5 separate regions of the Homo sapiens genome follow, and all the other regions are linked to region 4. The links come from fine-mapping of genetic effects on gene expression. A gene starts in region 4. Each other region holds a variant in brackets. All regions are shown on one strand. Distances are from middle to middle. Region 1 has its middle 29 kb from the start of CLRN2. Region 2 has its middle 23 kb from the start of CLRN2. Region 3 has its middle 34 kb from the start of QDPR. Region 4 holds the start of QDPR (quinoid dihydropteridine reductase). Region 5 overlaps FAM184B (family with sequence similarity 184 member B).

Region 1 (5,106 bases), 33 kb before region 4:
TCGTGATCCTCCCACCTTGGCCTCCCAAAGTGCTGGGATTACAGGCTTGAGTCAACGCGCCCGACCTGGAAGTTTTTACTCGTGGTGGAAGGCAGAGTGGGAGCAGGCCTGTCACATGGTGAGAGAGAAAGCAAGGGGGGAGGAGGAGCTGCCAGGCTCTCTTAAACAACTAGCTCTCCTGTGAACTAATAGAGCGAGAATTCACTTGTTACCACGGGGATGGCCCAAGCTATTCTTGAGAGATCTACTCTCATGAGGGATCTGCCCTGTGGTAGCGAGCCTGTAATCCCAGCTGCTGGGGAGGCTGAGGCATGGGAATCTCTTGAACCCGGGAGGCGGAGCTTGCAGTGAGCCGAGAACACGCCACCGCACTCCAGCCTGGGCAACAGAGCGAGACTCCGTCTCACAAAATAAATAAAAGCCCTGTCTCCAAATATGTCACATTGTGAGGTACCCGGGGTCAAGACTTCAACATAAGTTGGGGGGGCGGTGCAGGGCATAACCCTGCCCATGACAGCCCTGGTTCATTTCTGAACTGGTTGAAGGCTGCCTCCCTCTGCCCTTGACGCCGCACCACCTTCCTGCCTGGATCCTCTGCTCCCATGTGCTGTCCACATGCTGCTCGAGGACTCCTTCTAATGCGCCACCTATCCTGCTTCTCAGCCCTCAGTGAAGCCCAGTTCCTTCACAGGACGCAGGAATCCTTCTCGAACCTGGCCCTACCTTTCTCGCCTGCCTGTGTTCCTTCCATACTTCTTGTCTTGCGCTTGTCCCAGTGGGTGCTGAACTGCTGTGACCTGGCTGTGCTGTTTCCTGCCTCGATACCTCTGCTTCTATTTATGCCCTCACCCTGAGTTTTTTGCCTTTGCCTGCCTACCCCTTATTCATTCTTCAAAATTGACAGTGAGAGGGAGACTTTTGTGGTTCCTTGAATTCCATCCCAGCTCTGGCTTCTGGACCAGAGAGACTTGCGTGCACGCACAGAACCCAGCGCAGGCAGACGGCATGTGGACAGATCACAGGTGAGCAGATCGCAGTAGGCATTACCTCGGGAACAGTCTGTTAAGGACATGCTGATCACTGCACCAAAGAACTGTCCCCGTACCCCAGGGGGTGTCAGCTGTCTAGGCCAGGTGGCCTGTAGGAGCCACCTCCCTTCATCAGGCAGGCAAAGCTACTGTCTGGTTTTATTATGTCTCTCTTAATACAGAGGCAATTCAATTTCTTCCCACTTTTGGCTGGCTATATAGAGATACATATATATTTTATATGTTTATATACATTTAACAGATTCATACCTGTGAGGCTGATACAAATTTATGAAGATATTAATTTATACCTACCCCCTGACTTTCCCCATTCAAGCTAGCTGCAGGCCTCACCTTAGGGGAAATTTGCGGCAATGTGGAAAACAGAAGAGCTATCGCTGACTTTGCAGTAAGTACTCTGGGTTATCTAGATTGTGATTCATACCCAGTACAGTGGACCCAGGGTTCCATCGAACTTGCTTTCACAGTTTAGCCAACTCCAACCTCATTGCTGTAGCTACTTTAACCCCAGCTAAACTTTAAAATAATAGCACATAAGCACTTCCATACTAGCAAATTTACTGTAAACTTACCCTCGCCCCAGCATGTAATTACCTTTTTTTTTTTGGGACAGAGTTTTGTTCTTGTTGCCTAGGCTGGAATGTAATGGCGTCATCTCGGCTCACCGCAACCTCCTCCCAGGTTCAAGCTATTCTCCTGCCTCAGCCTACCGAGTAGCTGGGATTACAGGCATGTGCCACCATGCCCGACTAATTTTGTATTTTTAGTTTCTCCATGTTGGTCAGGCAGGTCTCTAACTCCCGACCTCAGGTGATCCACCCACCTTGGCCTCCCAAAGTGCTGGGATCACAGGTGTGAGCCACCCCGCCGGGCCATGTAATTACTATTAATGGTTTTGTTTGTAAACCCCACTGCTTCCTGATCCAGGCTGTGTCAGGATCAGCTCTGGCCATCCTCCAACCTCATGTTATCATAAAATACAATGTTTGTGTTTCTAGTTCCTGGTCTGTAAACTTCCCAAACAATGTCATCTTCATCTTTGTATCCCCAGGACCTGGCATTGTGCCAAACACATAGTAATGTTCCCAAAATAATCTGTTGAAAACAAAATGAAAATAATTGGATCTATGGGATGACAGGGCAGGGACAATGAAGTAACTATTTGGAATAATTTTCAGTAAGAAGCTTTTGTTAATGGAGGTGGAGAGTGGAGGTAAATGTCCAGAGGAAACAAAATTAGCCATGGGCTGATAATTATTGAAGCTGGATAATAGTTACCTAGAACTGCAATACTGTAGTTTCTATGCATATATATATATATATAAATTAGGCATATTAAATACATATTCACCAATAAAAAGTAAAAAGTGAAAACAAACCCACGTCTGTTTACTAAGAAATGAGTGTGAGAAGGAAGTGCTAGTTCTATAATGAAGCAGGCTGTCATTTCTGCTTGTTTACTTTGCATTTCAGCACAGCGGCCCTTTGTGAGGAACAATGACAATGACTTCCACCTCTTCCGGGGAGAAGCCCAGATGAGGAGGTCAGTTGCTGTGGCCTGTCAGCCCTAGAGGTGATGTCACCGTCTCCCGAGGACAAAACCTTCATTTAGCTGCAAGAGGGAACAGTTGAGTAGTAAAGTGCTTATTGTTGTGGGTCATCCTTTGGCTCAGATTTTGTAAACAGATTCATCTTGAATGACTGCATGCATAGGGATTACAGGAACGACTGCATTGTCTGAAATGACAAGCCTGGAAATTTCCACTGTAGGGGGATGTCATGGGATTCACTACTGGTATAGACATTAAAACTTACAAAGAAGAAAATTCTGTAGAAATAAAGACATGCTTAATATATTTATTTGAAGAAAGCAGAAGGAAAATAAGTCTGATGTGTATCGCATGGGAAGAGGGACATTATGACGGCATAAAAAAGTTAAAATGGGCCAGGCGCAGTGGTTCATGCCTGTAATCCCAGCACTTTGGGAG[T/G]CCGAGGCGGGCGGATCACGAGGGCAGGAGATCGAGACCATCCTGGCTAACACAGTGAAACTCCATCTCTACTAAAAATACAAAAAAAAAAAAAAATTAGCCAGGCGTGGTGGCAGGTGCCTGTAGTCCCAGCTACTTGGGAGGCTGAGGCAGGAGAATGGCGTGAACCCAGGAGGCAGAGCTTGCAGTGAGCCGAGATAGCACCACTGCACTCCAGCCTGGGCAACATAGCAAGACTCCATCTCAAAAAAAACAAAAGTTAAAATGTTGAGATATTATGCCACAACATGGATGAACCTTGAAAACACTAGGCTAAGTAAAAGAAACCAGTCATTGGTTATACAATAACCATATCTGGTATAATTTCACTTCTATGAAATATCTAGCACAGGCAAATTCATAGAGACAAAAAGTAGATTAGTGGTTGCCTAGGGCTGCATGGGGAAGAGAATGAAGAGTGATTACCAATGGGCAGAAGGTTTCTTTTTTGGGTAATAAAAATGTTCTAAAAACGTGGTGACATTGCACAATTCTGTAAATATACTGAAAACTACTTGAGTTGTACATTTTAAATAGCTGAAATTTATGCTGTAAAAATTCTAGCTCAATAAAGCTGTCAAAAATGCTGGGGGTATTGGGAAAAGAGGATTCTTTTTTAAAAATTGTCTTATTGCATCAATTTATTACATTTTCAATAAACAATACAAAATGTATTTTCACATAGTAAAAATCCAGCAAGGATACATCACATTCACCAATGATAATAAATATTTATTTTTGAAAACCCAGACAGTGTATTTCTGATAAATCTTAAAATTGAAGATATTCAAAATTCAGTGCAATCAAATTTCCATTGTCTGTTTGACAATTAAACACCAGTGTGGAGTGCATTTGGTTTTCTAGCAGGTACTGCAGCAGCTGCTGATGGCCTCTTCTCTTTTTTCTCTGTTTCTTTGTCAAGGATGAAGTTGGCAAGAGTTCGCATGCTAGCCAGTGCTCCAGGGTGAGGGAGCAGTGGTCCCTAATCTCAAATGGGAGTTAAATTGGTCTTCCCAAATCACTACCATGGCCCAGTTGTTATTTTAATGGTGTTTTCCTCATGGTTTTGTGTGGCATGGTAGCAAAATGTTATTGAGTTGCCTTCATTCTTCTGTTATCTCTAACCACATATCCAGCTTCCTGAGTTTCTCTTTTTCATTTATAAAATAGGAACGATGACAGTACCTGACTTAAAACTCTACCATGTTAAAAAACAACAACAACAAAACGGTAGCTCTCTCAGGTTGATTCCAAGGCTGGGATGGGGAAAGTACTAAATGAGCCTAGACTCTTGCCATGCCATAGGCGAGGAAGTGCTCAGATAATGTTGTGGGCATGTCAAAAGAACAGGAGCTGGCTGGAAAGAGCCCTCACCAGCCAAATTTGGGATAATTTGAGTATCAAAATAAATGATGATGGTAATGGAGAGTAAACAATGGAACAAAATAGGAATTCATGAGTCTATAGTGATATAAATGTACGAATCAGTGGGAGAGAAGGGAAAGCTCTTCCCTACAGTAGAATGCCAACCAATAAACTTAGAAGAAATAATGGGATTAGAAAAGGAACCATTTGGCAATCACCACAGTAACAACTGATTCGGGCAGAAAATCATCAATGGATGCTAAAATCATGGTTTGAATGGTGAGAATTTGATGAGAAATATCTCTCAACAAGATACTAACTAATTAAAATGGGAAAAGTAGAAACTACAGTGGAGAAATCTGCCAGTACTACTTCGTAGATGATTAAAGTGAACACCATCCGCAATGGGAGAGAAAAAAATCACACGCTTTCTGTTGAGATGCGCTGAGATGGGCAAAATGTCATCTTGCAGGTATTCTTGCCTAGAAAGCACGTGCCTGAATCTAATCATAAAGAAGCATCAGGGCCAGGTGCAGTGGCTCACGCCTGTAATCCCAGCACTTTGGGAGGCCGAGACGGGCGGATCACGAGGTCAGGAGATCGAGACCATCCTGGCTAACACGGTGAAACCCCGTCTCTACTAAAAATACAAAAATTAGCCGGGC
Region 2 (5,106 bases), 26 kb before region 4:
CCCTGGTGCCAAAAAGGCAGGGGACCGCTGGTCTAAAGAACACATGGGCTTCATCTCTCCTTCCACACTCTGCTTGTCTCCATTTCTGCCTTTGCCTGGCATGCACCCTGTAACCCTCCTGGCCAGCATGAAACATTTTTAGTTGAGCTCTAGTTCCTTTCCCAAGAAACTTTATTCACTAATCCCTATACCAACCTCTTCTTTCCTGAACTTCTGTAAATCCAATTACTAATATAAAAAGTAAGCATTGGCTTATTATCTGTCATAGGTGATTTTTTTTCTTTGTAAGAAGAAAATGGTGAAATACCATACACACCCATTAGAATGGCCAAAATCCAGAAGAGAGATGACACCAAATACTGGTGAGGATGTGGAGCAACAGGAACTCTCATTCATTGCTGGTGGGAATGCAAAATGGTACAGCCACTTTGAAAGACAGTTTGGCAGTTTCTTAAAAAACTAAGATCCTTTTACCATATCATCTAGCAATCACACTTCTTGACATTTATCCAAAGAAGTTGAAAACTTATGACCACAAAAAAACCTGCACAAGGATGTTTATAGCAGCTTTATTCATAATTACTAAAGCTTGGAGGAAAGCAATATGTTCTTCAGTAGATAAATAGATAAATAAACTTTGGTACACACAGACAATGGAATATTATTCAGTGCTAAAAAGAAATGAGCTATCAAGGTACTAAGACATGGAAGAAACATAAATACATTTTACTAAATGAAGGAAGCCAGTCTGAAAAGGCTACACACTGTATAGATACATATATAGGTACATACACACATACTGTACCTACATATGTATAGATATTGCAAAATTCCAACTGGCACATTACAGGCATTAGCCACCACACCTGGCCTATTTTCTAAATAATTTAGGAACAGTTTCTGGGTGCTTAACATCTGTCAAAGAGCAAAAGCCCTAGAAAGATTCCTGTCCTGGCTGGGCGCAGTGGCTCATGCCTGTAATCCCAGCACTTTGGGAGGTTGAGGTGGGCGGATCACCTGAGGTTTGGAGTTTGAGACCAGCCTGACCAAAATAGAGAAACCCCATCTCTACTAAAAATACAAAATTAGCCAGGCGTGGTGGCTCATGCCTGTAATCCCAGCTACTCAGGAGGCTGAGGCAGAAGAATCACTTGAACCCAGGGGGTGGAGGTTGCAGTGAGCCGAGATCGTGCCATTGCACTCCAGCCTGGGCAACAAGAGCGAAACTCTGTAAAAAAAAAAAAAAAAAATCCTGTCCTCATAGAGATGACATTCTCATGGAGAAAGACAGGCAGTATACAGTAAGTATAACACAAATATCAATTATCTAGCATGTTAAAGATAAGCAAAAAGAAAACGTCGAGCAGGGTAGTAAAGATGAACAATAGTGGTAAGGTATAAGGCAGGCTTCACTATTAAACTGGGTTTAATTTGAGGCGAGACTCAAGTTCACAACGCAACCTCAAACCTCCTGAGAAGTCAATTCCCAAAATAGATGGGAAGGCAATTCCTAAAGTTGTGAGAGATGATGTAATCATTTACTTTGTGAGTAAGTGTCTTTTTGCCCTGACAAAGCTTAGAATTAAGTACAAAAATACTTAAAAGAAGCAAAATCAAGGTATTGATATTTTTGATTTTAAAATTTGTACTTCCTTATTATTTTATGTATTGGTGATGAAAGAGAAGCTGGTCTGCTGGTGAAACAGGACAGCCGTATATTTCTAATGATTTGGAATCATGTTTTGCTTATTTATATACAGGGCTGGAATTTTTTTTTTTTTTTTTTTGAGACAGAGTCTCGCCCTGTCGCCCAGGCTAGAGTGCAGTGGTGTGATCTCGGCTGACTGCAACCTCCGCCTCCCAGGTTCAAACAATTCTCCTGCCTCAGCCTCCCGAGTAGCCGGGATTACAGGCGCCTGCCACCACACTCAGCCTTTTTTTTTTTTTTTTTTTTTTTTGTATTTTTAGTAGAGACATGGTTTCACCATGTTGGCTAGGCTGGTCTCAAACTCCTGACCTCGTGATC[C/T]GCCCTCCTTGGCCTCCCGAAGTGCTGGGATTACACGCTTGAGCCACTGCACCCAGCCAGAATTTTTAAGATAACTTAAGGTTCACAGCATTTTAACTTTAATTCATTAGACTTAGAAGAATTATTAAATTTTGTCAGTTAATTGAAGTGCATGGAAAATAAATTAAGTTACATAGGCTGTTTCAAGATGTTTATTTAGTACATTCATAAAGGGGACCAAATGGTAAACCAAAGCTTTTAAAAAGAGATCACTAAAATTTGCTAACCTAAAAAACAGAACAATAATATTTATAAGCTTAACTTCAATTTAAGGAGAAACAAATTTTGTGAATGTATAACTTTAATAAATGGAATATTACCTATTTCAATGTATTATTATTATTATTTTCATTTTTGCTGAAAGGCATACAACGTGCTATGTAAAGGGAACTTGAAAAAGTCATGCATTCCCATTCTTTACTTTCTGAAGTAACTAACAGTGTTTTTGCCACAGTTTTGTAAATTCTAACTAACTTGTTAAAGTTTGCCATAGTGATGACTGAGAAAAGAGACGAGGCCTTCATGATGAGGGCTTTAAAGAAACAAAGGCATACTTACAAAACAAGATTTAAAACATCACGATTAATTAATTTTCAAGAAAATTGTTTTCATTACAAGGAATAACCTACTACAGCAAAACCCTGAAGGGTGGGCCTTTAAAATGGTTCAGCTGACTACTCACCATAGGAACACTACTTTTCAAAACTAAAGTAAAATTTTGAGTAGTTTGTTTTGGAGTCAGAAATCACCATTACTGACATAGTTAATAAACAGCTGGTATATCAGGAGCCACCTCTCAGGTGGGCCACTTAAGCTGTGGTACCCAGGGAAGCTTCAACAAGAGTAGACAGAATGACTCGAGGATGGCTCATTTCTCTCTTCAACAGTGCTGAGAACTTTTTTCCTTTCTTTTTTTTTTTAAATATATTTTTATAGAGATGGGGTCTCCCTATGTTGCCCAGGCTGGTCTCAAACTCCTGGGCTCAACTGATCCTCTTGCCTCGGCCTCCCAAAGTGCTGGGATTATATTAATAGACAAACATCTCCTTTTCAATAGAAAGAATCCTTTTGTCCTATTCACTCCCTCCTGCCTCCTACCGCACGGTGGCATAAGCCACCACACCTGGTCTGGTGCTGAGAACTTCTGTGGGCCTCTTACAAACATCTCTCTCTCTCTCTTTTTTTTTTTTTTTTTGATAGAGTCTCACTCTGTTGCCCAAGCTGGAGTACAGTGGTGTGATCTCGACTCACTGAAACCTCTGTCTCCCAGGTTCCAGTGATTCTCCTGCCTCAGCCTCCCGGGTAGCTGGGATTACAGGCACGAACTACCACGCCTGGCTAATTTTTGTATTTTTAGTAGAGACGGGCTTTCACCATGTTAGCCAGGCTGGTCTCGAACTCCTGAGCCTCAGCCTCCCAAAGTACTAGGATTACAAGTGTGTGCGCCTGGCCACATCCCCTTTTCAATAGAAAGAATTCTTTTTGTCCTCTTCACTCCCTCCTTCCTCCTACTCCCTTGAAATCTGTAAGGTTGAGAGAATTGTTATGTTAGAAGAAAAAAATGTATTATATACAATTTATTGTTCCGCAAGAGGTCAATGACAAAAGAAAAATCACTGTGGTTCCAAAGTCATTTGTTAGTGTTGCTTATTATTTTTTCCAAAACAGAAAGCAATAAAGCAAACAATTACATGCCATGTTTTTACATTTGTTTTATTTAACCAAGAACTCAGCCGCGAACATCAGAGAAATGCATATACAATATATTCAGAATATAGTTGAATTGGTGGTTGAAATCCTCACAATATTAAATTGTCAGTGCATGTAACAGCATCTCCAATCACACTGGTAGTCAACTATTACCAAATAGCATTCATGAAAATGCCTAGCTTAGTGCCCGGCATATAGTTAGGTGCTTTATTCACTATAAATCTGGATATATTATATAGCATTAAAAGTCATAACATTTTAGAGAGGGAAAGAAAATTAGAGATTATCTTACGCGACTTGGTTATATTATAAATGAGAAAGCTGTGTTTCTAATTCTTTAACTTGTGAATAAATGTAATGAATAAATGTGAATCTGAAAGAGTCAATCCTTCAACATGGATCCTGAGTGGCTAACTGGGCCTAAGTTTTGAATACAGCCAAGGAGCCATTTGCTTATTAGAGGTCAAACATACACTCTGAGTTCCCCGCAAACCCACACCCTTTTAACTTGGAGACTTTCAGGTCTCACCTGAACCAACCAATCAGAGCTCACCGGCCTTGGCCAATCAGGACTCAGCTATATAAACCAATCAGGGTGCAGCTCTACCAACCAATCAGAACTCAGCTGTGTTGGTCAATCAGAGCTAAGAAAGTTTGAATCCTTTATTTTCATAAGCAGACCTGATTGGGAAGCTGGGGTGGACGTTTTGCTATAAACCTGAACCCTCTCTTTGTTCTCTGGAATGCACTTTTGTTTTACACTGAAGCTGTTTCCTCAGTTTGCAAACTGTTCACTGGAATAAAGTCTCTTTCCTCCAAATTCCTTTTCAGAGAACTTGTGTTCACAAACTGAAGGCTGCATCTCCTCAGTTTACAAACTGTGTCTCCTTGGTTTGCAAGGCTGGGAATAGGGTAGGCACCTACTTCAAATCCTTATACGTTAGGCTAGGTACATCCTTGAAAATCACACGGGTAGAAGGAGGCTGCATCTCTCTGGTTTTCAAACTGTTCATTGGAATAAAGTCTCTTTCCTCCATATTTCTTTTCAGAGAACTTTTGTTCAAAAACCCAAAAACTGGTAATAAGAGCAACTACGTCTCAGAATTTTTATGAGAATGAAAATGAAACAATGCATGTGGGGAAATTAGTAGAAAGCCTAGCATATGGCAAACGCTCTGTTATTGATTGGCCTTATTTTTGTCAAGCTGTGACTATTGCTGACTCATGATTGACACTGCCGTAGAAAAGAAAGTAAGAAACAGAGAGCAGACAACCTAATTTATCTGGCAAGGATTTCATGTGTGTCCTAGTTGCATAGGTTTGTTAAGAAG
Region 3 (5,106 bases), 34 kb after region 4:
CATGTGAATTGTTTCTGCTTTTTGGCCATAGTCAGTTATGATGCTGTGAACATTTGCAAAACTCACCTTTTGTGTGAACATATATTTTCATTTCTTTTGGTACATGCCTACAAGTAGAGTTATTGAATATCAGTTGGTGACTCTATATTCAACCATTTTAGCAATTACTAGACTGTTTTCCAAAGCAGCTGCACCATTTTACATTTCCACTGGTAGTGTATGATGGTTTTAGTTTTTCCACATGTCCAGTCCAGTCAGTCTTGATTTACATGTCTCCAGTCAGATAAGTCCATCCTCTTCCTCCTATGGTGAGGAGCAAGTAAGGACCTCAAGGTCTCATTTGTCAGAGTGCCACAAGTATTACATAATTTTTAATTCAGTTGGTATCTTAATTTTGGTTTTCTTAAAAATCGGCACTGATTGCTTGATTATAGGTTGTCTCTTTTTGATTATAGCCATCCTAGTGGGTGTGGAGTGGCATCTCATTGTGATTTTGATTTGTATTTCCCTCATAGCTGATGATGTTGAGCATCTTTTCATGTACTTGTTGGCTATTTGCATATGGTGAAATGTCTGTTCAGATCCTTTGCTCAATTTTTAATAATATCCTTTTATTACTGAATTCTTAGATTCTCTATATACTCTAGATACAATTCCCTTATCAGATAAGTGATTTGCCACACCTTTCTTTCATTCAGTGGGTTGTCTTTTCACTTTATTGATGGTGCCCTTTGAAGAACATAATTTTTAACTTTGATGATTTCCATTTGCACATAAGCTTTCGTTTCTCGCTGTTTTCTAGGGAACCTGGACTAAGCACCTGAGTGAGGTAGATATTAGTTCCATATCTGGTGAGGGAACTAAGGATCATAGAGTTTAAGTTATTTTCCCAAACCACATAGCCGGTGTAGAAAGAAGCCAGAATTTGCACTGAAGTCTGTGAGATCCCTTATGGACAGGGTGCAGGACATACTAAGTGTGAGTTGAGCTTGCACATTGGAAGGCTGGGCATGGTGGCTCCCAGCCACTATGGGAGGCCTAGGTGGGTGGATCACTTGAGCCCAGGAGTTAGAGACCAGCCTGAGCAACATAGTAACACCCCCTCTCCACAAAAAAATACAAAAATTAGCCCAGCATGGTGGCACATGCCTGTAGCCCCAGCTACTCGGGAGGCTGAGGTGGGAGAATCACTTGAGCCTGGGAGGTTGAGGCTGCAGTGAGCTGTGATCATGCCATTGTACTCCAGCCATCATGGAGTGAGACCCTGATTTGGTTTGGCTGTGTCCCCACCCAGATGTCAACTTGAATTGTGGCTCCCAGAATTACCATGTGTTGTGGGAATGGAAGGGAACCAGGGGGAAGTAATTGAATCATGGGGCCGGTCTTTCCCATGCTATTCTCGTGGTAGTGAATAAGTCTCACGAGATCTGATGGGTTTATCAGGGGTTTCTGCTTTTGTTTCTTTCTCATTTTTCTCTTGCCGTCACCACGTAAGAAGTGCCTTTTGCCTCCCGCCATGATTCTGAGGCCTCCCCAGCCATGTGAAACTGTAAGTCCAATGAAGCCTCTTTTTCTTCCCAGTCTTGGGTATATCTTAATCAGCAGCGTGAAAACGGACTAATACAGACCCTATCTCAAAAACAAACAAAAAGAGATTGCACATTGGCACTTGGTCCCTGAATGTGCTAATGATATGTGGCATTCATGGGCCATCTGCTGTGTGTGTGGGGTTTTACATACATCCTTCCTTGTATATCCTTAAGGCATTCACCTCTTCAGCCTCCAGGATGGGAAGGTTTTTGCAGGAATGTATCTTTTCCTCTCTTGAGGTCCTCACTTGCTCCTCACCATAGGAGGAAGGACGGATTTATCTGATTGGAGAGACTGTAAATAAAGACTGACTGGAACATATGGACCAGGGGCGGGTCTGCTGCATGGACTTTGGGCTGTGTGGGTTGCTCACTCTCCTGCCCTCTTCTTGCCTATGCAGAACTGATTTCTCACCTCTACCTTCCTGTCTGTTCCTGGTGGGTTAGGAACGTAGAGGAGAGAAGGGATGAAGATTAGTTTCTCTTACCCCCTGAAGCATTATTTTTCACAGTGCCTCTCCACCTGTTCAGTGTTGAGTAAGTGCTGAATGAGTGGACAGGGAAACAGCCTTGGAGAAGCTTACTATCCCGCACATCCCTACTAAGTGATGCAAATGAGTCAGGGAGCCGGGGTCCACACCCAAGCGCCACCCTTGGTGGTTTGTATGATTCTCTGGTTAGGGAGGCATGACGGTAACATCTCCTCCTGTTTATTCCTGCCATCTGCTGCTTTGTCCGCCTCTCATCTCCTTGGTGGCTTCCTCCATGCAGCAGGTTGGTGGACACAGGTGCACTTTGTTCACTACCTGGCCCTGCCACACCGTAGTTATGGGACCACGAGCAATGGGCCAGCCTTTGGCCTCTTTTCTCACATTTATTGCTTGCCCTTCTCAGTCCCAGTCTGCATGTCAGGCACCACATTTTCCAGGCTCCCCTGTCCCTGGCTTCCTGTAGGGTCAGGCAGTTGGGGGCCTGGTAGAGAAAGGGAGGATGGGGAGAGGGGAGAAGCACAGTATCCCCATTACCCCTCCTGCCTCAGTGGCATCTCAGGGGCAGTGGTGACGTCTTCAGCTGTGGTGCGTCTCCTCTGTTTTCCCCGCTCCCACTGACTGGCTCCTTCCTCGGTGGAAGCAGCTCCCCAGGGCCTGCCCACGGCTCTTCCTTTGATTCTCAGCCCTTGAGTTGCAGTGGCTTCTCACTGTTGCTCATCTCTGGGTCGCTTCATTGTCCCCTGTTTGGATTCTGGATTTTTCCGTCTCTGATATGACCCATCCTCTTTATTAAATTTCCTCTGTTGGAGTGGTTCTGTTTTCTGGCTGGTCCCTGACCGATGTAGTGTCCTATCAGTAAAATGGGAGTGCTACCATCTCCCTTATGGTGTGGCTGTGGGTATTCAGTGAGATGGCAGCTGGTTAGTATTTACCGTTTTTTTCTGTACTTCAGAGGGAAGAGTGGGCCTCTCTGGGAAACAGTGCCTCTGA[C/A]TTCTGCATTTTTAATTTGCCCCAAAGCCATTAGTTCTTAATTTCAGTTTCTACTTGTTGCAATGATAGGGTGGTAGCAATATCACCACTCACCCTTCTGGAATAGCCTGGGGCCTGGGGAGAGGTGTTCCCGGTGTGGTCACATTCTGTGGCAGATTGTGTCTAGCTGGGGACTTGGGCAATATGCTGCTGTCACCTATGAGTGTTTTTAAGTCACAGCTGCTTAAAATCTCAGGAAATAGAAAGCGTCTAAGTGAAGTGAATGGTGTGGCTGCATGCTGCCTTTCAAAGTGCGACGGACAGCCTCTCCTGGGGGCTTGGCAAAAGAATTGGGAAGGGTCAGTTTCGGAGGCTCTGTCCATGGGAGGAAACTGGTGCTGAGTCCAAGTTTTTTCCCCTTCAGGTCAATTTCTATTGTAATACCATCACTTAGATGTAAAATAAAGGCCACTGGGGGGCATTTTAGAGACAGAGACGGTGGGGAGCAAAGCTCCGTGGGGGATAAAGAAAGCACATTAGACAGAAAATCCTACTGTGCCGGGGGTTTCTGCTGTCCTAGAGCTCTGTGCAGGGGATTATTGGAAGAAACTTAATGTTTTTCTTTTCTCTTCTCTTCTTTTCTCTTCTCCTTCCTTCTTTTCTTTCTTTCCTTCCTTCCTTCTTTCTTTCTTTCTTTCCTTCTTTTTTTTTTTTTTGACAGTCTTGCTCTGTCGCCCAGGCTGGAGTGCTGTGGTGCGATCTTGGCCCAATGCAACCTCCACCTCCCGGGTTCAAGCGATTCTCCTGCCTCAGCCTCCCAAGTAGCTGGGATTACAGGCACCTGCCACCACGCCTGGCTAATTTTTATATTTTTAGTAGAGACGGGGTTTCTCCATGTTGGCCAGGCTGGTCTTGAACTCCTGACCTCAGGTGATCCACCTGCCTTGGCCTCCCAAAGTGCTGGGATTACAGGCGTGAGCCACCATGCCAGGTCTGAAACTTAATGTTTTTCTAGAATGTTCTTAGCATTGAGCGAGCCTCTATATAGTCTGGAGATACTCCTGGACTAAGCAAGTCCCTTTCTGGCCTCTGCCTCAGTTTTCCGTTTCTGGCAGAATTTCCTACTGCATTTTTGCAAATTATTTTTTTAGCTCTGGATAAAGTAATTTGGACTGAAAATCTGAGTAAGAGAAGAATTAAGATATCCCATCTCAATGGTTATCTAAGAACTGCAAATGGAAACAGTGAGATAGCATTAATAGTAGTTACCAAACTAGCAATGATTTTTAAAATGCAGGTGGTAATTGGTAAAGTGTAATTTCAAACCCTGCTGGTGGCCAGCCAAGTAGCAGAACTTTTCTGGCAAGTAATTTGAGGGTCTTACAACCCTCAAATATACCATTTGATCTAGTAATTCCATATCTTAAGTGTTATGTAATAATCAGCAACAAGGACAAAAAAAATAACAAATGAAATTCCTGCATCATTACTGAAATCTTGGAAACAATCCAAAAGACTAGCAGCACAGAATTGTTAAATAATCACCATACATTATGATATAATATGATTTGTGCCATAGAATAACTGCTGAATGGGAGGAGTGCCCTGGGCAGGGAAGGAGGTCCAGATCCTTTCTGGGGTGTATGGGCTGCTGTGAACCCAGTAGGGGTCTGCTTGACATTGAACTGCATCTGCTGTAATGGCCTAGGGGGTTTAGTCCCCTGCGCAGCTCCTCTTGCCATCTCTCTTCCTTAACATTGACCAAATGAATCCTTACTATGCTGTAGGCCTTGCTTTACAAGCATTGACCCATCTTCATGACTTTAACGAGGACACTTCTATTATTATGTCCATTTCACAGTTGAGAAGATTGTGGCATAGAGAGAAGTTACTTGCCCAACGTCACACAGTTAGGAAGCAGCAAATGTCAGGATTTGAGCAGGTATTCAGACCGCTCTTAGCTACTACATTATACCAGACTGCAAATAAGCCGTACAGTTAATTAGCACAATCTAGTTGTGCTAAGAATTATTAAAAATCACATCTTCAAATAATTG
Region 4 (5,106 bases):
CAAAGTTGGGCAAAAGTGGAGCAGTAAAATTTCTTAGTTGGTCACAGAAGCCTGAAGGGGGGTTCAGGAAGTTGCACTGTTAACCAATAGGGGTCCCAGGAATCTCACTTGGAGAGTGTCAAGGAAGCAGAGGGACACATTAATGGAAATGTCAGTTTCCTTCCTCGCAACTGGGGCTCACTTCAGTGGCCACTCCACAATGAAAATAAAAATGAGAATTTCTGAGCCTGGGCAATGTAGTGAGACCTTATCTCTACAAAAAATAAAAAAAAAAAATAGTTGGGCCTGATGGCGTGTATTTGTAGTCCCAGCTACTGGAGGCTGAGGCTGGAAGACTGCTCCAGCCCAGGAGCTCAAGGCTGTAGTGAGCTATGATCATGCCACTCTGAGTAACAGAGTGAGATCCTGTCTCTTACTATATATACAGATGAGTGGCACTTTACCATGTACAAAATGCAAAATGCTTTGACCATATGCTTGCTCACCTCTGATGCTCCAGCAACCCTTTAAGGTAAACAGGAGATGCACGATTTCAGCCATTTCTCTCATGAAAAACTGGATGTCAGTGCTGGGGCTGAAATTCAGGTCTTTGAATTACAACAGCTCATCTTCATCCCAGTGACTTTGAAACAGCAAATGTTTTTCTGGTAAAAAATAACAGAATACATATAAAAGGCTCAGAAGACTGCTTGGCACATTAAGTGATCAATAATGTTAGTTCACGTTCTTATTTTAACATTAAGCATGCTTTGACAAGTCAGGACTTGCGTAAATATCATTGAGTCATATTTCTGCCGTCAGTGAGGGACCTGTGTCAACTTTTGGTGTTTTGAGGGTTAAGCAATTGTTTTCAGAAAAACTCTAAGGGAAACACTTGATTCCCAACAAGCCTTTGTCTTGCTGAACAAAGGTGTGGTTAAGTGGAACTCTAGCTATTGAAGACCTGTGTTCAAATTCCCACTCTTCCAGACAAGTGTCTGTGACTCTCATGCCTCAGCTTTCTAATCTGCATAGGATTATCGTGTGGAGTAAAGTGAAATAGCACAGGCAGATCACTTAGCGCAGTGCCTTGGATATAAGGAGCACTAAATAGATGGTGCTCTCCTCTCCATCCAGCCTCCTAGCAGTTCTATTTCTGATAATGAAGCTTCTGACAACAAAATGTGCTGCTGGCTGCATCCTCTTCTCTAGTGACATATTTCTGCATGCTTTACCTGGCACAAGTTTACTGAACAAACATCTGTGTCTGCTGTGTACAAGGTTATATGTGGATGGGAAGTGACACAAAGATGTATGTAATACAGGGTTCTGCTATCAAGAAGGTTATGAGAGTGTTAGAGCTCTGGTTCTCTATCAGTGATGAATTTGCCCCTAGGAGACAACTGTTAAATCTGGAGATATTTTTGATTCTTATGAGTGAGGGGTAGGGGTTTGCTATTGATTTCTAGTATATGCAGGCCAGGGATGCTGTAAATATCCTACAGTACCCAGGGCAGCACCTGTCACAAATAATTATCTGGCCCAAAATGTCAGTAGTGCTGTAGATGAGAGGCTCTGTGTTAAAGATACAGGCCATGGGCAGAAATAACTAATATACAAGGGAGAAAATGCCAGGATCTGTGTCTGGCGATGGGTGGCATATAGTAAAAGGGCCATTTGGATTAATGGGTATAAATTTACGGTTAGATAGAAGAAATAAGACCTAGTGTGGTTTGTCTCGTCTCGGCGGTGGACTTTCAGCTCCTTGAGCGGAGCGACCTCTTCTGTTTTTTTGGCAGGTGGGAATACTTAAATCTCTATTTTGATGCACAATTAAAAATAAAAAATTGCCAAAACAGTGGTCGAAAATTGTACTATACTATATTTTACATGCTTACACTTCACAAATTAATGCTCGTAAAACACCCGCTCTCCACCCTCCTCGCCCTTAGCCCGGCTCGCTGCACGCCCCGAGGCCCAGCACTTGCTGGCGGGTGGGAGGAGGGGCTTCGCCGATGTCCCCGTCCCAGGGGCAGGGCCTGGCCGAAGTTACAGTCCCTCCGGGTGGCGGGGCGCCCCGAGCGTGGCAGCGCGCTAGGCGGCAGCAGCGGGCGCGGAGCGGGGCGCGGCCGCCGCGCGTTCCCTCTTGGCGGGGTTGGCCGGCCGGGGCGGGGCGCGGCGCTCCGGCTCGAGGCATTCGGAGCTGCGGGAGCCGGGCTGGCAGGAGCAGGATGGCGGCGGCGGCGGCTGCAGGCGAGGCGCGCCGGGTGCTGGTGTACGGCGGCAGGGGCGCTCTGGGTTCTCGATGCGTGCAGGCTTTTCGGGCCCGCAACTGGGTAATGCTGCGGGCTGGGGCTGCTGGGTCTCCGCGGGGGTGGCCGGGGGCTTTCGTGTGGAACCCGGCGGGGGGCAGTCTAGAGGAAGGTGGGGGCCCCTGTGCACCCCCTGACTCGTGTTGCTTGCACGTGCGCGCACAGGTCTACGCGTCTATTCCTGTTTCCGAGTGCGTGCGCACGCCAGTCCCAGGGCGCTGGGCCTTTGCTGTGCAAGGAGGTGCTCCGTGGGCCTCCGCCAGACCCAAAAAGTCCGGCGTGACTCGGGAGAGAATTCCAAAGGGGAGGAACGGGAGCAGGGGTGAGAGGACGGAGAGAGAGTGTAGAAGGAAGGCTCTAGAATGAGACAGCCCAGTCCCGGTTACTAGTCATGAGACCGCGTATTGATTACCTAACGCCGTAGGACCTCGGTTTCCCCATTTGTACAACGGAGATTCTGACAGTGAGAGTTGGGACGATTAGATGAGATAATTGGTGTCGTTGCACATAAATTACCTGACGCCTGGTAAAAACTGTTTAAATGCTGTCTATTAATGTTACTATTACTACCCACCCCTGTTCTTTTAGCCCCATTGGATCTGACAGTTTGAAGGCTCAGCACGGAAAAACGCTGACGGCTTCTTTGCTCTGCAAAGACTATTTCAACTACTTTGCATAGTCAGGTGTCAATTTCCAGGAGGCGGCAAGTCGGAGCAGAGCTGATACATGGCCAAAGACCCTTGACCTCAGCCGCTCAGCAGGCCTCAGCAATTTCCCGGTGGAGACACTGCCAGCGGCAGCGTTCTGGGAGCTTAGTTAGCAGCAGCAGCACAGCAGCCTGGGCAAGAGTTCCCCTGGGACCAGAAAAAGGCTTTCAGGATTTTCTTTAAAAAAAAACTATCTAATTTTTATAGATGAAGGGGGCAAAAGTACAGTTTAGTTACATGGATATGTTGTGTAGTGGTGAAGTCTGGGCTTTTAGTGTAACCATCACCCAAATAGTGTACATTTACCAAGGTTTTCTTGTTGCTCAGAATCTGGTACAGGAATATGCTTCTGAAGAATTCAGTCACACCACTCCCTTCCTGCCACCCATCTGCTCAGTGCTTGGGGACACTGATGAGGGCGCTTTCCCAGGTCTTCAGAGATGCATGGTGGTGACAGAGGCAGCACTTCTGCCAAGGGCCAGGCACTGTGTTCCCAGTACCAGAGTTCCCATAGACTCTTAATGCCCCCAATATCTTTAAGGCAGTAGATCCTGTTAGCGTCATGTGTTAGAGGGTGAAGGCTGTGCTTTCTCCTGGTGGTGGCACTTTGGTTTACCTTGGTCTTGGCAGAATCTGGAGAGCTGATTTACCTCTGGCTCTTGGTCTTTCCCCTCCGAGCTTCTTCCTGCCATCTTAGGGAGGGCTAGGATGATGGAGACTTTTCATTGTTTCAGTATCCCCCATGGGATAACAAGTTAATTAATAATATAACAAATGTTGATGAATAGATGCTGTGTTTACAGCTTAAGGTAGAGATAATTATCTCTGGGGACTTCAGACCAAGAGACCCTGAGTAAGGACTGAACATCCCCTGTGCCAGGAGCTTTAGCATCTTCCATTTCATTTAATTCTTACACTGACCCTGTTAATCATCAACAAACAACCTCTTTTGTTGGGAACCTCTGCCCGGCATCGGAGTGAGAAAGCCACTCTGGCAGAGCTGGGATTCAAACCTGATCTGTCTGATTTCCAATCCTAAAGTCCATCCCTCTCTGCTGCAGGACAGGGATCCTTTGTGAGCTGAATCTGGTCTGCCACCTGTTTTTGTACAGCCCAAGAGTTAAGAATAGTTTTACATTTTCAGGTGGTTGAAAAGAAAATCAAATGAAGAATTATATTTTGTTGTATATGAAAATTAATGAAATTCACATTTCAGCTCTGAAGATTTATTGGAACACAGCTGCACTTATTTTTTCCCCCTATTTATTGCTGTGTTCTGTTACAATTGCAGATTTGAGTAACAACAGATACCATATGGCCAGCAAAGCCTAAGGTAATTGTGATCTGGCCCTTTACAGAAAATTTGCTGGCCCTTGATGTCTCTAGAAGTGCAGGGTTTGTGTTTTAGAGGTGAATGTGGAGGCGGAGTAGAGTGTTTGGAGGTAGGAGGGCCTGGGATGGAGCCCAATATAGGGTGTGTTTTCATTGAAGCCTCTTACCTGTCTCCACTCTGCTCCTTTATTTTTCTTTCTTTTTCTTTTTCTTTTATTTAAATGGAGATAAGGCCTCCTTCTGTTGCCTAGCCCGGAGTACAGTGGTGCGATCATAGCTCACTGAGCTCAAGTGATCCTCTCGCCTCAACCTCCCGGGTAGCTGGGGCTACAGGCATGTGCCACCACACCTGACTAATTTTAAAATTTTTTTGTAGGGACTGGGTCTTGCTATGTTGCCCAGGCTGGTCTCAAACTCTTGGCCTCAAGAGATCCTCCCACATTGGCTCCCAAAGTGCTGGCATTACAGACGTGAACCACTACACCTGGCCAACTCCCCTCATTTCTATGTGTGACTCTTTCATGGAATAACAACTCACTGCCTCTTAACCAAAGCTGTTTTCTCCTTCCAGTGGGTTGCCAGCGTTGATGTGGTGGAGAATGAAGAGGCCAGCGCTAGCATCATTGTTAAAATGACAGACTCGTTCACTGAGCAGGCTGACCAGGTAGTTTCAAAAAGGCCCCCAAACATTGTGAGGGGAACCCTGGGGAGAGGTGACCACTGGCTGTATGTTCTTCCTTTGGCTGTATGTTCTTCCTTTTATTTCTTTTTTTCCC
Region 5 (5,106 bases), 220 kb before region 4:
CTCAGCTCGTCAAAGTCATTCCCCATCCAGCTTTGTTCCATTGCTGGTGAGGAGCTGCATTCCTTTGGAGGAGGAGAGGCACTCTGCTTTTTACAGTTTCCAGTTTTTCTGCTCTGTTTTTTCCCCATCTTTGTGGTTTTATCTACTTTTGGTCTCTGATGATGGTGACGTACAGAAGGGTTTTTGGTGTGGATGTCCTTTCTGTTTGTTAGTTTTCCTTCTAACAGACAGGACCGTCAGCTGCAGGTCTGTTGGAGTTTGCTAGAGGTCCACTCCAGACCCTGTTTGCCTGGGTATCAGCAGCAGTGGCTGCAGAACAGCGGTGGCTGTAGAACAGCAGATCTTGGTGAACCGCAAATGCTGCTGCCTGATCGTTCCTCTAGAAGTTTTGTCTCAGAGGAGTACCTGGCCGTGTGAGGTGTCATTCTGCCCCTACTGGGGGGTGCCTCCCAGTTAGGCTGCTCGGGGGTCAAGGACCCGCTTGAGGAGGCAGTCTGCCCGTTCTCAGATCTCCAGCTGCATGCTGGGAGAACCACTACTCTCTTCAAAGCTGTCAGACAGGGACATTTAAGTCTGCAGAGGTTACTGCTGTCTTTTTGTTTGTCTGTGCCCCGCCCCCAGAGGTGGAGCCTACAGAGGCAGGCAGGCCTCCTTGAGCTGTGGTGGGCTCCACCCAGTTTGAGCTTCCCAGCTGCTTTGTTTACCTAATCAAGCCTGGGCAATGGCAGGCGCCCCTCCCCCAGCATTGCTGCCACCTTGCAGTTTGATCTCAGACTGCTGTGCTAGCAATCAGCAAGACTCCGTGGGCGCAGGACCCTCCAAGCCATGTGCGGGATATAATCTCCTGGTGTGCCGTTTTTTAAGCCTGTTGGAAAAGCACAGTACTAGGGTGGGAGTGACCCGATTTTCCAGGTGCCGTCTGTCACCCCTTTCTTTGACTAGGAAAAGGAACTCCCTGACCCCTTGCGCTTCCCGAGTGAGGCAATGCCTCGCCCTGCTTCAGCTCGCGCATGGTGCACTGTACCCACTGTCCTGCACCCACTGTGTGGCACTCCCTAGTGAGATGAACCCGGTACCTCAGATGGAAATGCAGAAATCACCTGTCTTCTGTGTCGCTCACGCTGGGAGCTGTAGACCAGAGCTGTTCCTATTCGGCCATCTTGGCTCTCAGAAATTTTTTTTAAAAAATTTAAATCTACTGTAATCCCATCACCCGGAGGTTACTACTAACATGCTGAAATACCACCTCTGAGTCTGACACCAGCATTTGCCTCTGCTCCACACCTGGGCTCAATTTCCGCAGCACTCTTCCTTCCTACTGCCCCTTAGTTGCCATCTTCTCCACCCTTCAGGACACCTGCTTTCACTGCAGGACCTACACTGACTGCCCCGAGAGACGGAGTCTGCAAGCCCTAAGCTCTCCTAGGATTTGTTCTTGTGTGCTGTTCATACTTTAACTCACAGCAGTCAAAATGTAAAGATCTCCTGGTCCAGCACTATCCAAAATATGTTCTGAGGCATGTTAATTTTCATTGTAATTTTTTTTTAAGAGACAGGGTCTCGCTCTGTCACCTGGGCTGGAGTGCACTGGCATGATCATAGCTCACTGCAGCCTCAACCTCCTAGGCTCTAGCAATCCTCCCATCTCAGCCTCCTGAGTAGCTGGGACTACAGGTATGCTTGTGGATGGATATGCAATGTTGGCCCTGATCCTCTTCCATCAGCAACACTATCCTCATCTTCATCCTCATCATCACTACCTTCGTCGTGATTGTCATCGTCATTATGACCATAATTCCTGGATAATTTTTTTTTAATTTTGTAGAGACAAGGTCTCACTTTATTACTCAGGCTGGTCTCAGACTCCTAGATTTAAGTGATCCTCCCACCTCAGCCTTTGAAAGTGCTGGGATTACAAGTATGAGCCATCATGCCTGGACTCATTGTAATTTTTTTTTTAAATAAGAACTCAATGGCCAACTGCTGGGGTAAAGACAGTTAAGCAAATGTCTTTATAACAGAGCTAACCAAACACTCCCCAAGCTTATTTGACCCTTTGTCACTTTCATTCCCTTTGGGAAATATCAGGTTAGTTTGACCATTTCATTTATTAGGTGATATGGTTCGGCTCTGTGTCCCCACTGAAATCTTATCTTGAATTGTAATCCCCATATGTCAAGGGAAGGACTTGGTGGGAAGTGGTTCGATCTTGGGGGTGGTCTTTCCCATGCTGTTCTCATGATTGTGAGTTCTCATGAGTTCTGTTGATCTGAAAATGAAGGAGTTCTCACAAGATCT[G/C]ATGATTTAAAAGTGGCAATTTCCCCTGAACTCACTCTCTCCCCTGCCACCTTGTGAAGAAGTTGCCTGCTTTCCCTTCACCTTCCGCCATGATTGTAAGTTTCCTGAGGCCTCCCCAGCCATGTGGAACTGTGAGTCAATTAAACCTCTTTTGTTTATAAATTACCCAGTCTCAGCTAGTATCTTTATAGCAGTGTGAGAACAGACTAATACATTAGGAAAGGAAACTTAGTTTTCTCAGAGAGACTGTAGGACATGCCTAAGTTCACACTGCTTGAGAGGGACAGAGCTGGGTCTTGGGACTCAGGTCTCTTGTCAGCTGTCCTGGTGCCTCCTCTGGTGTCCTGCGGAGCCTTCATCCTGTGCCATCTTTCTGCCTGGAGGTTTCACATGACCCTGTGTGTGTACACGTCCTTCTCATGTGCTATGTGAGAGTAGGGACAGAGTCTTAATCTTTTGTTCTGTCTCCTCCAGTTCTGAAGTTGGTGTTCAGTGAGTCATACTGAGTTTACTTAGAAGGGTCAGGAATGCTGGCTGTAGCATGTATCTGTTCTTACTGACACAGAATCTATGTGTGTCCTGGCACCAGGTTTCTAATTTCCTTTGAGATACTGAGCAGGTACCCTGACTCAGTCTTCATTCCATGTGATTGAGGCAGGTCAACCCCATTCTCCTGGATCCCATGCAACCTGAAATTAGCCAATCAGAATATTCTATCCCATTGGCCACAGTGATCCATCAGCATTAGGTCCATGACACTAGCCAGATCGATAGAGTTAGCTTTGGAGCTTTTGTTGGGACTGTTGACAAAGAGGAGTTCTCTTTCCTGGGGCAGGCTGAGCTGGGAAAATAAAATCCTGAAGCTGCCTGTGGCTACTTTGTCAAGAGCCTACCAAGGAATAAAGCCAACTCAGAGGAAAGCAAAACTATGGGATGGGGAAAAGTAGAGTCAAAATGACATCATTTGGCCAGGCGCAGTGGCTCATGCCTGTAATCCCAACATTTTGGGAGGCCGAGATGGGTGGCTCACCTGAGGTCAGGAGTTTGAGACCAGCCTGACCAACATGGTGAAACCCCGTCTCTACTAAAAATACAAAAATTAGCCAAGCATGGTGGCACATACCTGTAATCCCAGCTACTCAGGAGGCTGAGGCACAAGAGTCACTTGAACCTGGGAAGCAGAGGTTGCAGTGAGCTGAGATCACGCCATGGCACTCCAGCCTGGTCAACAAGGGCAAAACTCTGTCCCAATAAAAACAAAACAAAAGAAAACAAAAAGACATCATTTAAGAGCCCACACCTGGAGCTAGCCCTGGCTTCGGGCTTTTCAGGTATATGAGCCAATAAATTTCCTTTAACCCAAGCTAATGGATTTGGGAATCTGGTTTTGTATATAGAAGAGTTTTGATTAGTGGGCCGGGCACGGTGGCTCACACCTGTAATCCCAGCACTTTGGGACGCTGAGGCAGGCGGATCACAAGGTCAGGAGATCAAGACCATCCTGGCTAACACAGTGAAACCCCGTCTCTACTGAAAATACGAAAAAATTAGCTGGGCGTGGTGGCGGGTGCCTGTAGTCCCAGCTACTCAGGAGGCTGACACAGGAGAATGGCGTGAACCTGGGAGGCGGAGCTTACAGTGAGCAGAGATGGCGCCACTGCACTCCAGCCTGGGTGACAGAGCAAGACTCTGTCACAAAAAAAAAAAAGAAGAGTTTTGATTAGTAAATCCGTACATATATGGGATTTGGTTGCTGAATCATAATGATTTTAAAAGGAATCTCACAGATTTTCACTGGACAAGAAGGATCTGACCAAGCCATCCTGAGAGGGCATTATGCCACAACCCCTGGGCCTTTCTTTTTAAAAAGGCAAGGAAAGACTTTTAGGAATATGTACTAAATGCCACTTTCTGCCTCCCAGTACTGACAGACGCTATATGACTGGCTCAGGGAACCCAGCCAAGAAAAAGGGAGACTGTCACCATTAGTGAAAATGGAGATGCCTTTACACTTAACCCTATTATCCAACCCACACTGGCAACTTCCCAGACCCTCACCTTCAAATGTGCTAATAGGAGTGTGCGTGACCCTAAAGACAGCTACCAGATTTGAACTGAATGAAAGCAGCCCTGGATTCAGGACCTGACACATATTTGGTGCTACTAGATGTGTCTGTGAAAGAGTAGTTTCTATTACTTTTTGACATTGGTATCTGGGATGAGAAAAATAGCATTTCTTAAATAGGCTAAGTGGGGATAATAATTACATGCCTCTTTTTCCCAGGCAGCACTGCGTAAATCCACTTGCACATAACACATCTAAATGGTGTCCCCTCTCTGTCATACAGAATTCTTCATTCATTTTTTCACCATTTATTCACTCATTCACTTACCATCTGTTAAATCCTGGACCATGGTTCTGCTTGGTAGTGAGGATACAATACTGAGTAACAAACAGTCCCTACTAGTTCCTGTCCCTGAGGACCTGCCGTATGCCTGCACATTGCCTGACCCTATGTTTGCCATTGGGACACAAAGGTGACGAAGTCATGACCCTGCCTCACAAAGCCAGCAGGCTCTGCAGCGGTGAGTCCCCCAGAGACCAGGCCCTACCCTCAGGTATGCGGGGGCAGATAGAGATTGAGAGCCACTTCTGGGGTGGATGAAGAGCATCCATGGAGTATTAAGCAAGACTGTCTTGTAGTCAGCCCTTCAATTTAGAAAGAACACTCTAGCCAGGCCAGGGAGAGAATTGACGTAGAATATAGGAGTCCTACGAAGGGTGGTCTGGAGGAAATGATTCCAGAA

What was found.
Region 1: its variant is fine-mapped to the expression of QDPR in tibial artery (GTEx, PIP 0.91).
Region 2: its variant is fine-mapped to the expression of QDPR in iPS cells (HipSci, PIP 0.95).
Region 3: its variant is fine-mapped to the expression of QDPR in whole blood (TOPMed, PIP above 0.99).
Region 5: its variant is fine-mapped to the expression of QDPR in amygdala (GTEx, PIP 0.96).

Annotation. Positions count from the first base shown.
Region 1 is chr4:17,541,927-17,547,032 of GRCh38, reverse strand. No RefSeq gene overlaps it. Among named protein-coding and RNA genes, the nearest start is that of CLRN2, 29 kb to the right of the region's middle. RefSeq lists an enhancer at 1,665-2,261. The variant T/G (reference allele first, on the strand shown) is at 3,038.
Region 2 is chr4:17,535,349-17,540,454 of GRCh38, reverse strand. No RefSeq gene overlaps it. Among named protein-coding and RNA genes, the nearest start is that of CLRN2, 23 kb to the right of the region's middle. The variant C/T (reference allele first, on the strand shown) is at 2,027.
Region 3 is chr4:17,475,085-17,480,190 of GRCh38, reverse strand. No RefSeq gene overlaps it. Among named protein-coding and RNA genes, the nearest start is that of QDPR, 34 kb to the left of the region's middle. The variant C/A (reference allele first, on the strand shown) is at 3,071.
Region 4 is chr4:17,509,159-17,514,264 of GRCh38, reverse strand. It overlaps QDPR (quinoid dihydropteridine reductase), which reads left to right and starts at 2,175. Exons shown (of 7, transcript NM_000320.3): 1 at 2,175-2,315; 2 at 4,902-4,994. The coding sequence starts at 2,211. RefSeq lists a silencer at 1,967-2,546.
Region 5 is chr4:17,724,830-17,729,935 of GRCh38, reverse strand. All of the region lies in intron 1 of FAM184B (family with sequence similarity 184 member B), which reads left to right. Among named protein-coding and RNA genes, the nearest start is that of FAM184B, 54 kb to the left of the region's middle. The variant G/C (reference allele first, on the strand shown) is at 2,299.